Linked DNA regions of Homo sapiens. The protein of the gene in region 2 purifies or fractionates together with the protein of the main gene of each other region. This does not show direct contact. Each region holds a gene or a part of one and is shown on either strand. Other genes may lie near its edges.

Region 1 (6,537 bases), on a different chromosome or scaffold from region 2:
AGTGAGACCCTGTCTCAAAAAACAAACAAACAAAAAAACTCAGCAAGCATCTCAACCTTTAAGCAACCTTAAAGTCATTAATTGGGAAATAGTGAGATGTTTGGCATGGAATCTTCAGAAGAGGAAAGAGTTGAATGGAAACAGCTCCAGCTGCCTAGTTGTAGTTGACAGACAACTTTATAAGCTCTAGTCAACCCTATTGACTAAGCTTCTGAACCACTAGCATAGTTCTAGGGTCAGGCGGATGCCTACTGTGGGCAGGAAAGTGATGCATGCATGTGTGGGAGCAGTGTCTTAATGTCTGAAATAGTAGCCATGAGCTACATGTGGCTATGGAGCACTTGAAATGTGGGAGTCCAAATTATCATGTGCTGTGAGTGTAAAATAATATGTTTCTAAGACCGTGTGTGAAAGAATATAAAATATCTCATTAAAAAATGTTTATATTGAGTACATGTTGAAATAATTTTATATTTGTGACACATTGTGTTAAATAAAATATTAAAATTTACATTTTTTTTTACTTTGTAATGTGGATACCAAAAATTTTAAATTACTTATGTGGCTTGCATTATATTTCTATTGGACAGCACTGGTCCAAACTATTCTAGCCTTCCCTGCATCTTCAGCCTTATGCACGAGGTAAAATTAGCCATTTTGTCAACAGTTTTTGCATTTGGTTTTCTATCATGTTCTGACCAATTTTTGAACAACTCTTTGGACCAGCTCTGTAGCCGATTTGATTTAAAGCATATAGGATAGCAGGAAATCCCAGGGTGATGGGGCTCTGGCTTAGTTTTCCATATTTAGGCCTCTAATAGGCAGTCAGTAACTCCACATTTCACCTTTTCTTTTCAGTTCTTTAATTGAGAAGACAATTTCTTCATTTTTAGGTATTCTGAAATGTGACAGAAAACCAGACAGAACCAAGTAAGTACACTGCAGGCTGTGCACTCTGTGCCAGAACAACAGCAGCCCTGCTGTAGATGCCCATTACTTGGGAAGCCAGATTGTACTCATCTGTTGGTTGCCTTGTACAGTAATAAGAAGTAACATCAGCAGATATACTAACCATAGTGTATTAAGTACCAACTGTGTGCCATGCACTGCACTAGCCACTCTCTGCATATCGTTTCCTGGAACCCTCTCAATGAGCCTTGCAGGAGGAGTATCATACCCCTTGCTTAGAGACAGCGCATATGAGATTCATAGAAGTCAAGTGAGATATCAAAGTCACGTTGCTAGTAAGTGATGGGCTGGGATTTAAATCTAGGTCTTTGGACTCCAAGAGTTATACTGTTAACCACTACAATACACTCCCTCCACCTCCCATCCCAGAAAAAGTTGGATCAGGGATAGGGTTCACTTCAGGAGCCAGGGTCAGAGCTGGGCCTGTAGTCACATATAAAAGATAGGACACAAACACAATTAGCAGCAGTGTTGGTTTAATAAACCGCCGTAGGGTGCTCCAAGAGGCCCCCTCCTGGCAGATCCCACTGGTGGTCAGGAGGCAGAGGCATGAGCTGGGTGTTGAGGGATGAGGGGAAGAGTTAAGGCCCAGGGTGTGAAGGGCAGGACAAGAAGTAGCAAGCCATCCTCTTTGGAGCAGAGAGTGTTGAGGCATTAGAGAAAGATGGGGCTGGGCTGGCAGGTTGGGCCAGGCTGAGACTTTGAGAGAGGCTTTGGGTCATTCTTTAGGGAGAACCGCAGAGTTTTCTAGCAGAACTATGCTTTAGTAAGATCACTCTGCTGGCAAAGCATGGGACTAATTAATAGGAGATGAGATGAGGACACTGGTTAGTGGAGTAATGAAATAATCCAGCCAAGCAGAGAAGAGGGCCTGAGTCAAGGTGATGGTGGCAGAACTGAATATGCAGAGCTAGGTTTGAGAGAAACAGCAGAGGTCCTGTTAGCAAAACTTTCATCTGGCAGTGTAGGCTCTGATGCCAAACTCCCTGGTTCAAATGCCAGCTCCATTTCTCACAGGCCTTGGACAAGTCACTTAAACTCTCTGTGCTTTGGTTGTCTTCTGTGGAAAATGGGCATAATGATAATATAGAAATGACAATGATAGCATAGATAATCACATAGAAATAACTGTGTCAAAATATATTAATATAAGTACAATGCTTACAATAGTGGCTGGCTCATAATAGTTTTCAATAAATGTTAGCCATTATGACTATTGTTACTATTATTTTTCAAGAAAAATAAAAGCGACAGGACCAAGTGTCACAGAGGAGTCACACAGGAATCTTGGTTGGGAAGGAAAATTATGAATTTTTGCTTTGACAGGTTGATTTTGGGGTGCTGGTGTATTACCTGGCTAGTGATGTCCATGCACAGAATTGGAGCGTGGGCTTCACGCTAGAGTTACGGATTGGGGCGCCTCTTCATCTGGACAGTAATTGATGCCGTGAGCACCTGAGGTCACTAAGAAAGAAAAGCTAGATGCCCTAGGGTGATGGGAAGAGGCAGAGGAGGCGGGACTGGGGAAGCAAAGTCCAGGATCAGAGCCAGGGTAGCCCCGGGTTAGAGACTCGAGGGAGGAGGCTACATGTTAAAGCTGCAGAGACAAGGAGGTAGGCGAGGGGTTAAGACCTTTGGTTTTGTGGAGTCGGTTGCTGTGGTCAGTGCAGGGATGAAGTGAGGGTGGCTAAGCAGCAGCAAGGGCCTAGGTGAGGTGGGATCGATGGATGGGCCACAGGTGTCCTTTCTCCTCAGCTGCCAGGTGGAACAGTGCAGGAGAAACAAGCTGTGGCAGGAGGCCTGGGGGCAAGGAAGTACAAGGGGCAGCTCAGCCGGCCACAGACCCAAGCTGGGAGGACCCAAGGCCATGAGGGGTTGATGGGCCAGGAGGCTGGGCAGAGAGGAGCCAAGTAGCTGGAGATGAGGTGAGGTGGGAGAGGTAGGGACCTCCAGGCTTGTGGTCAGAGGAAGGCATTTCAGATCTGAGCAATATGCGTGAGCCCCAGGTGAGTGTGAGAGCCAAGTCAGGTCTCTGCTGAGATCTAGGTGGTTACAGTGGAGGGGAACTCTGAGTGGATGGGGGAGGCATAGCCATCACTACCAATGATGGGGGTAGGGGGGCATCATCCAGGGCCACGGGGAAAGGGGATGGGCATTCTGGAACTCATCCCTTCCTCTGTTCCTTTCATCACAACAAACGTTATGGAGATTATGCGATACCAGGCACTGTGCTAGCTGATAGGGTGGGGGTCAGAGTACCCAGCGAGGCTAGACATTGTGTGGGATTCAGAGAAAGCATATAATAGGGCTCCTCCCACAAGAAGCTTGTGGCCACACCAGGGAGAGAGAATGGATGCACATGAGCATACGAAACTCTTAGAAGGACTTAGGCAGGAAGCACAGGTGATAGGCAGAATGTGTGATATGAGGGTAAGGGCTGAGCAACCAACGCAGAGGAATTGGAGAGGCCAGAATAATCAGAAAAGCTTTGGAGGGGGTAGGATGTGACCTACATTTTCAGAACAAGAGTGGAGTAGAAAAGGCATTCCAGGTGGGATAAACAGCGGAGGCAAATACATGAGAGGGAATTAAATCTGTTGTGATTTATTTGATAGTAAGATTGACCTGCCTGGCATCGAGTTGAAGTAGAGGCAAAAGACACTGAATATTTGCAAGGAGGTCCTTAGAATGGAGTGATATGGAAATAAGCAGCCATTATAGGTTCTTGAGCAGGAACATTTTGCATGAAAAGCACTGCTTTGGAATGATGAGTCTAGAAAGGTAACACTGACCTCTCTAAGGTGGCATTCTAGGGAGAGACCTGAGTATTTGGGGCTGAGATTGAGAGAGGAGCTTACTTTTCTTGGTATATTTTTATTTACTATTCAAGTTCTGCATCATGTGTGTTTACTGCCTATTTAATAATTATTTTTAAATTTAAAGAACCCATTGTGGCAGCAGGGGGAATTCTCTAAGCTCAGTTACTAAAGGGTTATGAAGCTGGGTATGGTAGCACACACCTGTAGTCTCAGCTACTTGGGAGGCTGAGGTGCGAGGATCGCTTGAGTTTAGGAGTTAGTGGGAGGATTTCTTGAGCCCAGGAGTTAAGAGACCAGCCTGGGCATCAAAAAAATTAAGTTAAATTAAAATGTTAAAAGGTTCTGTATATGGTGGAGATGGAGGAGATCGGGGGAGGAGATGAGAAAGGGGCAAGCATAAGTAGGAACAAATGCAATATTTCCCCAGCTGCGCGAGGGCAGGAGCAGGAAGAACTAAACCCAATTAGGAACAACAGAGGACAGATGAGTAGATAGCAGACATCTGACGGGAAATGGCCACGCCACACTTCTCACCCAGGCAGTTCAACGTAGGCAATTTCTGAGTGCCCTGGTATTTTTTGTGTAAGTGTCTAGAAAACAGATCACAAAGTTAGCCAAATTAAAAAGGAAGCAGGGAGTCCTATTTCTCCGAGAAGAAAGATTTACAGGTGGGATCTCAGGCAGGAGCCAAGCTGGAGAAGCAGGCTTGATTCCTTGTAGTGGGTGAGGAGACTGCTGGGAGAGGGCAGGGAAGCAGAGACCGGCAAAAAGCTGCCCCAACAAGAATCCTGTGCCTGCCAACCTGGTTTACAAACATTTCCCACTTTATCCCCCTCAGAAAGTCACAGCACCCATTTCATGTTCTGTGAGGCTCCCAAGGAGGGAAACTTCTAGTTTGCTGTCCTTTACCTCACCCCTGTGACCACAGCACTAATTTCTCATGAATTCTTGTTACCAATGAGATACAAATGTTTGGGGAGCTCTGGCCTGGTCTGATTTTGAGCTCTGTGGAAATACGCAGACCACGGGGGAGGAGGCCGGGAAATGGACTCGGTTTGAGGGCTTGCTCAAGGATGCGGTTTTGTTTTTCGGCTGATTTACTCCAAGACAGCCAGAGATTGTTCTGTCGTTGCCACAGAGGTGACTAAACAGGAAGGTAAGTTTGAGGTAGGAAGAAAACCATCCCCAGGAGTTTCATGTAGCAAAGAAGGAAGTAGCTGTTACAAATGGGTGACAGTTTACATGTGGGTCTAACAGTCTCAGCTCTGTTGTTCAATCTTTCAGTTATACTCAGAGAGTAAGCGGGAGGAGCCTTGGGGCTGCTATTGAGTGCAGCATCCTGAAGGCTGTTCTTCAAGTGTTACTCAGACTACTATCCCAAGAGCACTCAAGGCAGTTCTTCCTCCATCCCTGCTCCCTAGCTCCCTTGGCTTTGATGAGTTTATTACAAAAGGGCTATTCACTTTAGAATAGGAGGGTAATTAAGACTCCTGGTCTGCAGCCCAGATTTACTGCATTTTACAAGTTAATAATATGATTTTTTTTTGTAGCTCCAATTGATTGGTAACAGAAGATGAAGACAACAGCATAACTAAATTATTTTAAAAACTAAAAAGCCATCTGATTTCTCATTTGAGTATTACAATTTTTGAACAACTGTTGGAAATGTAACTTGAAGCAGCTGCTTTAAGAAGAAATACCCACTAACAAAGAACAAGCATTAGTTTTGGCTGTCATCAACTTATTATATGACTAGGTGCTTGCTTTTTTTGTCAGTAAATTGTTTTTACTGATGATGTAGATACTTTTGTAAATAAATGTAAATATGTACACAAGTGACTAGGTGGTTTGGCTACTGTTTTCCTAAGATAGAAAAATAAGGGTCACATACCCTTTTAAAATCTATACTCTTTCTCCCTTGCTTTAGGGGAAAAATAATTCATTGTAGGGTCATTCATGGAGTGAGGGAGAAAAGTACTGTCCCTCACTGGGTTCCACTGCTGTCAGTACGAGGCAAGTGAACACATGGGTCTTTACTTCTAGCTGCTTTTGAAAAGAGCAGATCACCACCATCCAGTGCAGTTGTATAACACAGGTGGGGCAGGGAGACTTCTCTCGCTGCCATTAATTAGCCTACTTAGTTTGTTGCATTGGTTAGCTGTCACATTGGGAGGTCAACAGCAGACAGTAGCTGGAAAACCGTAGTCATAACAAATACAGAGTGGCAGCCACTCCTGAAGTGGTGGACGGTGCCAGTTGCCTCTGGCAGCCATGTAAACCCAAGTCAATACATAGACGCTTTAGCTTGTGCCTGCACTGTCCCTGGAATTCCTGTCACATGAGAGTCTCCAGGCTGAAGGAAGAAATCAATATTTCTTGACTCCAAGATGGGCCTGTCAAGGTGGGTGGATCACAAGGTCAGGAGATCGAGACCATCCTGGCTAACACAATGAAACCCCATCTCTACTAAAAATAAAAAAAGTTAGCCAGGTGTGGTGGCGGGCTCCTGTAGTCCCAGGTACTCGGGAGGCTGAGGCAGGAGAATGGCGTGAACCCAGGAGGCGGCGCTTGCAGTGAGCCAAGATCAGGCCACTGCACTCCAGCCTGGGGGACAGAGCGAGACTCCATCTCAAAAAAAACCCCTCAGGCTACATGTGTTCTCTCTAGAACAGCCTGCATCTGAGCTCCCACAGGCCTCAGCAAGAGTGGGAAAGGAGCCCAGAGTGCTTCTGGGAAGACCCACATCTCC
Region 2 (8,544 bases):
GCTAACACGGTGAAACCCTGTCTCTACTAAAAATACAAAAACAAAATTAGCCGGGCGTGGTGGCAGGTGCCTGTAATCCCAGCTACTTGGGAGGCTGAGGCAGAAGAATGGCATGAACCCAGGAGGCGGAGTTTGCAGTGAGCCGAGATAGCACCACTGCACTCCAGCCTGGGCAACAGAGCGAGACTCCGTCTCAAAAAAAAAAAAAAAAAAAAAGCAGACATTCTGTGTCTTTAGCCTATAACCACTAGAAATTAAAAAGGTTGATTCTTTTAAAAGGAGTGACCATTTTGCACCTTAATAATACTCTCTCAACCCATCCCCCAGCCCTCAGAGAAAGCAAATAAAAACGTCAGCCGGGTGAGGTGGTTCGCGCCTGTAATCCCAGCACTTTGGGAGGCGGAGGTGGGTGGATCACCTGAGATCACGAGTTCAAGACCAGCCTGGCCAACATGGTGAAACCCTGTCTCTACTAAAAAATACAAAATTAGCCGGGCGTGGTGGTTGGTGCCTGTAATCCCAGCTACTCGGGAGGCTGAGGCAGGAGAATCGCTTGAGCCTGGGAGGTGAAGGTTGCAGTAAGTGGAGATCATGCCACTGCACTCCAGCCTGGGCAACAGAATCTCAAAAAACAACAACCACAACAACGACAACAAAAAAAACCTCTCTCAACCCATCCCCCAGCCCTCAGAGAAAGCAAATAAAAATGTCTTCACCTCCATTTGGCAATGAGGTTATTAAGTTCACGAAGGTACTTTGGGACCTAGAGAAGCTCGGTTCTGTTTTGATCAGTGTAGGAGCAGAAGTCCACCGGTGGGACTTTGAGCCCCAGACACCACAACCCACCCTGACCAGTACCCTGGAGACCTCTCAAAAAACAACCACGCGGAGGGCCTGAGGAAAATCTTATGACATATCAAACAGACTTATGAAATGGGTGCTTTGAGGCCTCTTCAGACATACCTTTACCAGCTTCAGTCTGTGCGAAGCTGCCCTGTGAAGGAAGTTTAAAAAAAAAAAAAAAAAGCAAGAATTAGGAACGATGATAACAAATTCAATAAAAATCACTCTCGTGCTGCTGGTATCTGATCTCACGCCTTTCTCTTTCAGGTTGGAGGAATAAATAACTAGGAGAAGGGGAAATGTAAAAAAAAAAAAAATGCTGGGTTTCACAGGAAATTTCAGCAAATGTGGCTCTAAAATGGACACATCAAAAAAGCCCCTTGAGAAAAGGCGAGTCTTGAGAAAGGCGAGTCACCTGCCAGAAAAAGACAGGGAGGAAGGGAGTCACAGGCAGGTGCTCCTCCCAAGATGGTGGAGATCTGTGTGTTTCTGAGGCACATCGCCCCTGCCCCAAGCTTCAGGGGCACAGTCACAGCCGATGATCGTCACCCAACATAATCATACAGGCCCAAAAAGGCTCTGACAGCACATCGAAGGGGAGCCAGACTCCTGGGAGACGTTCTTTGTTACAGAGCGAGGTTGGGACTACAGAGAATGGGCTGAGGTATGAATATTCTAGAATTAGTCAGACGGTCCCCAGTACCTGTGGTCAGAATTCCGTGTGACCTCTCTTAAGGAGTCATATTTTCAGCTAATAACATTAAAGCTAAATAAAGGACTCTCCACTGTAGTGTTCTGAAAAATCTCTGATCTGGAAATGGCTCTTCCTTTCCCCCATAATGCGTGCCTGTTCCCTTTCCTGTCATTCATGGGTTCAATCCATCATTTCAGACACTCTTCGGGAGCAAAGGAATCATCACTTTCTTTGAAATCAACATCCAACTTTTGGAAGAGTTATTCTTTTCTCCTCAGTTAGGGATCCACATTATTCTACATATAGAATAATCTTTTTAAGTGAAGCTTATTGCCAGAACACCCTCAGATTTCAACAAAGGAGAAGAAATATGTGAAGGCATGCCTACAGAGTTAAAAACAGAGCCCTGTCCTTCATTCCCCCATGGGGCTGAAATGCTCTCAATCTCCTGAAAAAAAAATATGTAAGCAGAGCCACTGACCTGTGTTCTGCACTGCCATGAAGATAAACAATAATTGGGTTCCCATCACGAAGGGCTGCTTCATACCAGCAACAGTCCTTCCCCTTGGCATCTTCCCCCCGGCAGCTGGGGACTGTGTGCCTGAAGAGCAAGGGAGGTTTAAACAAATGTAGAAAGAGGAATTCTCCATCCTTTCCAAAGGCCGAAAGTCTCCTTATGATATATATACATATATTTTAATTTTTTATCCGACTAATATATGCACATGGCAAAAATAAAAATCTAACACCACAAAAAGTCTTATGACGAGAACCACAACTGCCCTACCCCATGTCCCCATGCACAGAGACAATGCCTTTTAACGACTTACTGTTTTCGTTCTTCTGACTTCTGCACCTGTTAATTTTCCAAGACTGCAGTTCTTAGGTACAGCCCATTGAAATTGTTTTTTTTAAAAAGGGAAACAAGTAAAAGATAATAGATGTTTACCATCTGCCATGAGTTCGGCCGAAGAGATAAGTAGGAAATAATTTAAAGAGAAACCAGTTTATGTAAGAGAAAAGAACTAAAACACTAAACTATTTTGCTCCAGAAACCAAGAAACCTTGTGATTTTAAACATCTGTGTGAGTTCCAGTTTCTCCACTTTGTTAAACCAGTGAATGCTGCAAATGCAAACACTGCCATATGACATGTCACCATGGGATGTGGAGAACTGGCTAAGGGTGACAAATCTTCTGTCCTCTCCATCACTTAAGGACAGAAAGTCTGCCATCATCCCCAGGGCCTCTGTACTCCGAATATAGGCACTGCTGCCTGCTGGATGAGCTGATCTTGATGAGATAGCTGACTCACCAAACCAAGGACCAGTGGGGCAAAAGCAAAAAATAAAAAGATTTCTAAATTCCAACACATTTGGGTGAACTGTACCCTGAAGAGTAGGAAGAAGTTATGGGTTTGTCCTAAACATTTTATGATCAAAGGTTTGAACTCAGGGAGATGAAATAGAAAACAGGTCACTGGAAACTTGGCAGCCAAGAATGAGTATTACAACTAAACAGAAGAAATGTTAAGGTTAGCATTGTAAGACAATAGACTGTTCATGACCTCATCTGACATATTTACTGAATGCCCTTTATGTGCCAAACATTGTGCTAAGCAATGAAAACCCACCAACAAAGTCTATCACCTGCTGAAGCTATAGTCTTGTAAGGAAGACAAATATTAACCAAATCATCACACAAACATTTATTTCATGACAATGGGAATAATTGTCAAAAGGGACAAGCACAGATGGCCATGACAGCACATACCTAAAACGGGCAGTGAGGAAAGGCTTTTCTGAAAATTACCAATTAAAGTAAGATCCAATAGATGAGTAGACAGTTAGCAAGGCAAGAGGGAAGGCAGGGAGCTGAGAAATAGAAGGAAGCCTTGAAGGCAGAGCATGTCCTAGGAGGACAGTGTGTCTGGAGTTAAGGGCATGAAGGCAAGGGTGGTATGGAATAAGGCAGAAGGGATGGGTGAGGCCAGAAGCCAAGGGCAACACCTAAATGTCTATACTCCAAAGCAAAATTCTTAGGAAAATCAAGCAAATCAACAGAAGAGGAAGGTGTAGGAAACAGCCTCCAGGTACCTCCAGGAGCACCGACCTCTCCGTGGGCAGGTAACACAGCACTGCTCCTCTGAGTCCTAACAGGAACACCTGCCCCATCAAGCAACCCGGTGTCCCATCCGTGCACTCACCAGATCCCTAGCATCACCCCAGGTTCAACTCTCAGGTAGAAGTTCACTGTGTGAGGAATCTTTAACTCTGGTTTCTTTAAATCCACAAGAAATGGGGCTTTGACTGGAAAGTAAAAATCATTATCAACTTCAAGAATCAAATTCCATGCCTTTTAATCACAATCAAAGAAAGGAATTAGCCTACACAGGTTAACAGGCTTCTAAGTTGCAAGCTACTACACTAAACTCCTAGCAGAGTATTTTATTTTATCAGCTAGGACTAGCCTGCAGAGGAGGGGCAAAAAACAAAAACCTAAAAGCTAGATTTTAAAATAGCATCAGTGTCATGGCTCATAATAGAGAAACAGAGTTATTCAATCCTTATCCTTGTCTCCAGCTTTTTAAAAGCAGTGGAGACCATTCCCCTAAGAAGGTAAAAAGGCCTAGAAGAAAATAATAAGTATTCTGCTACTTCGGTGAAACCTAATCATCAGCCAAAAGGCAAGAAATGTCCAGAACTACCTGCTTACCAGGAGGCAAGCAGGTAAGAACTAGAAGGACTGTGAATGGAACCCCCACCCACAAGGCCATGCATCTCTCTTTACTCCCAACAGTTTGCAAGGATTCCTGCTAGACTTCAAAGTCAATATTAAATAAGTTTCAGACCATTTCAGTCTAACCACAATTTTACAGCTGACATGTCTTTTCACTACGTCACAACTTTAAGGGTACTGAGGTCTTTATTTGGGAAAAATTATATAGGAAAATTTATGGAAGGTCCATACTTACAAAAATTAAAATAAATTAGCATGTCTATCAGAGGAAGGAAAACGTGTTCTTTTAAGGATTTACTAGTAAAGCTGTCATACAGAGCAGCAATTTTTCTTCCGAGCATTGAACAGGAGTGTGGAAAATATCTGCAAGGTATTGGGAAACACACAAGGTTTTCGAAATTAATCCATTTGTCTTGGTTTGTTTTTTTCTTTTTCTTTGTTTTTTTTTGGACAGAGTTCTGCTCTTGTTGCCCAGGCTGGAGTGCAATGGCATGTTCTCAGCTCACTGCAACCTCTGCCTCCCGGGATCAAGCAATTCTCCTGCCTGAGCCTCCCAAGTAGCTGGCATTACAGGCACCCACCACCATGCCTGGCTAATTTTTGTATTTTTAGTAGAGACAGGGTTTCACCATGTTGGCCAGGCTGGTCTCGAACTCCTGACCTCAGGTGATCCGCCCCCAAATTTCAGAGACTAACACTGGGAATTCTGGGTCAGATGGCATTTAAGCAAAATCTTTTACACAATGACAAGGAATTATCTACACGGCAGGCCAAGACTGGGACTAAGGGGAAACCAGGTAAGGAAAGTAATAGGGCAGGGCCCCAACCAGTAGCTGAAAAAGCCAGGACATGGCAGGGACAGGAAGGGAAGGGATATGTTCGCACCACAGCCAGGTTTGGTCCCTTACTGTAGCCCCATAGAAGGCTGAGGCTGGACCCCAAAGTCACCAGTAAACAGGATTCAGACAGTTTAACAGTTGCTGCAGTTTTTAATTATATCACAATTCTGCACTATATGTGTTAGCTATTCTTATCATTAGTCTCAGGCAGTGAGGGAATAATCCCTAGATCCTCTATATTCTGGACTTATCTTAGGAAGAAATGAGCCAGTGTTAGGAGACCCCACTTCTGAGATGAGATCCCTGGAAGAGATGGACCCATGAGGCACAGGGCTGGAGCCTGGTCAGGGAGTGGGATGGGCGCATGCACATCTTGCCTACGCTATTGTTCCCTGTGACACAAACCACCCAATCAGGAGCTGTCAGCACACAAGTGACGATTTGTCCATGAGGGGTCACTAAGGACACCTCTGTCTCAAGCCACCTCTCTTGTGAGGGTCTTAGAGAGGTGAGGGATACAGGAGGTCAATGTCATCACCTCCTGCTTCCAGTTTTTGCCCACATTATCCATTAAGTAAGTCCCTTTCCATGTTGTAAGAGATCATTGTTAAAACTGTTTAATATAATCAAATGGTAAGGTTGAGGGGCTGGAAAGCATTTTTGATAAATTGTCTCCCCTGCCCTGATTTCTATGCTAGACCAGAGGCATTTTTGGAAGATAATTATTACCTTTGCTTTGCAAATGAGACTGGAAAGTTAAGTAATCTTTCCAAGGTCACAAGTCAATGAATGGCAGAGCCACACATACCCAGGTCTGTCTGATCCCATAGTCTTATAATGATCTCCAGGATGTCACAGTCTTGGTGACATCCATGTAAGCAGAAATGAACCCCAGGAACAAAGCTGGCCTCTGGCAAAATTCTGCTCATAGACAATCTTGTTTTAAGATCTCCTTCTGCACCTTAGCCCTCTCAGCAGGGTCCCGTCCTTTCTTCTTTCCTCCTTCCTGCTCCTGTATTCTCAGGAGCCCTCTGATAACAAAGTCATCAAAGAAAGACCTCTAAAAAAATTAATTCCCCCTGAAGTGTTAATGACTTAAAAATCAGAGCACTTATATGTGTTTGGAAGAGGCACGAAGAGAGAAGATAATGAATCTCTGATGAATTTCCAGCAGTTCTGCAAGAAGTGGAAAAGATATGTGGGCTAAGGGTAATGGATAGATTTTTGAATACATCATACGCTGGCAATTGCCTACTCATAAAATCAGCAAGAAAGAAATGAAAATGATTGTTTCATAATACTTTAAAATAGCACCCCACCACCCCTGCCATGAAGGCGGCAGGAAGGAGAGGACATTGTTGTTCTGATTTTAGAGATAAGAAATCAAAACCCAGAGAAGCCACTTTGAGCCACAGATCAAGCCCAAATGGACAGAACTGAACCCAAGGCTGAACTGTGCCTCCTTCCAGCTGCTGGCTCCTGCTGGCTTCCTTCTAAGCTCCCCTCACTCACCTCCACCCTGCCTGTTAGTCTCCAGCTAAGCTGTCTTTTGAAGGTAGGCAGGGTAGTCTCCCGCTAAGCTATGTTTTGAAGGTCTGCTTGGGAAGCAGAGGCAGTAGAGGGAAATGTGTGTCTGTTTTTTAAGGAATAATTCATACACAGTCCTTCTCTCAAATAGCTCGAGGCACTTTTCTGAGATGCACTGCGGGAAGAGAACAGAGTGACCAGATCCTCAGAGCATCAATAATGCAAAGCAGCTTCTTTTAACTAAGGGGTTGTCAATTTGACTTCCCCTAGATCAGTAAGGGATCAAAAGTCACCAGTGGCTAATAGACCTTATTTGAGCAGAGGATGCAGTTTCAGCCCAATCCCCGCTAACGGCCAGCCACATCAAACGGCCACCTTGGTGCTTTGGTGTTCTTTCACTTGCCCTTTGATCAGCTGCAGCTGTAACCACACAGCGTCCCACAGGGGACTCAGAACCTAACTGGATGATTCTTACTGGTGAAAGCTGGTGGAGTCTGAGCTGCTACAGGGTGAATCACTCATGCTCAGAGGTTTCTGCAAACCAACTTTGGGAAGCCCAAATCTAACTACATTTACTATTTCAAATATTAAGACAGGTACCTTCAACCTGTGTGCCAATTCACTCAGTCGACATGTGTTTGTCACCAAGCACCGGGAGACATCCTCCCAACCAAATCCCCTCTTCCTTCACACCCATGGAAGTATCTCTTTTTTGTCAAAGTCTCCTGGAGAGATCATTCCATGGTGACCTCTCCTCTCTTGTCTTTCCTCCCACAAATAATAACGGGGCCTCAGCTGGCCTTGAATTGTTCTGTGATGGCTTTCCCATTATTAGCCCTGTCTTCTCCACTCTATCAGGCCACAGACAACAAGAACAACATGGCATAGAATGCTTCCTTTACATTTCCCTCTGTCTAGCCCAGGGCTGAGCTCAGTAAATATTGACGCATAGGTTGAAAATAGAAAGAGAGTGCATTTATTTTGTAAGGGAGAAGGAAGCAACATTTATTGGTAGCTTCAGAGGAAAGAGGAAGGACTTCATTTTCTTTTTTTTACTTACAATTGCAAATGAATCAATGTGTGCTCCACAGAGCAAGGATTTTGTCTGTTTTATTTACTGCTGTGTGACCAAGACTAGAATACTATCCAATAGATAATAAAGAACCAACGCTGTGGAAAGAATGAACACATTTATCAGCCTACTCCTGCACATTTTCTGAGCACTATCTAGGATTGTAATGACTTGGGGTGGAATGGGGGAAATGAGGAGGAAAATAAACCTTTGGTTTCCCCCAACTTCCTTCTGGAGCACATTTTCCATTTTTCTTTTTTTATTATTATTTTTTTTTGAGACGGAGTCTCGCTCTGTCACCCAGGCTGGAGTGCAGTGGTGCGATCTCGGCTCACTCCAACCTCCGCCTCCCAGGTTCAAGCAATTCTCCTGCCTCAGCCTCCGGAGTAGCTGGGACTACGGGCATGTGCCACCACGCCTGGCTAATTTTTTGTATTTTTAGTAGAGACAGGGTTTCACTGTGTTAGCCAGGATGGTCTCCATCTCCTGACCTCATGATCTGCCCGCCTTGGCTTCCCAAAGTGCTGGGATTACAGATGTGAGCCACAATGCCTGGCCTCATTTTTCTAATTTAAAGAAAACCAGTTGTAAAGTGGAGACTTACTCTCCTTGGCCCACCCACCTTAAGCAGCAACTGGATTTGATAAAAATTTTTGTAAAATAAATAACTAGATTCCCAAGGCATTAAAAAATAGCCACTGAAAAAATCATATGATGAAATGTTCTTGGGTCTCACAACACATCCCACTAGTTCCAGTGCCATGATCAGGGCCAGGGGCATGGCAAGCCCTCCATGAAGGTTTGCTCACCTAAGTGAACCCGGCTCCAAGA

What was found.
Region 1: the proteins of ABHD12B (region 2) and CD58 purify together in Homo sapiens (affinity purification with mass spectrometry; 3 studies listed by BioGRID and IntAct, with this or other methods). This does not show direct contact.

What each region holds. Positions count from the first base shown.
Region 1 is NC_000001.11:116,513,624-116,520,160, reverse strand, and holds the end of CD58 (lymphocyte function-associated antigen 3), read left to right. Parts: intron 1-858; exon of another isoform or gene 859-893; coding exon 894-930; coding exon of another isoform or gene 931-934; exon of another isoform or gene 935-1,461; intron 1,462-5,338; coding exon 5,339-5,348; 3' UTR 5,349-5,627; downstream 5,628-6,537. UniProt on the Homo sapiens protein: Ligand of the T-lymphocyte CD2 glycoprotein.
Region 2 is NC_000014.9:50,874,046-50,882,589, reverse strand, and holds part of ABHD12B (protein ABHD12B), read right to left. Parts: intron 4,639-8,544; coding exon 4,511-4,638; intron 3,846-4,510; coding exon 3,743-3,845; intron 2,139-3,742; coding exon 2,019-2,138; intron 995-2,018; coding exon 964-994; intron 1-963.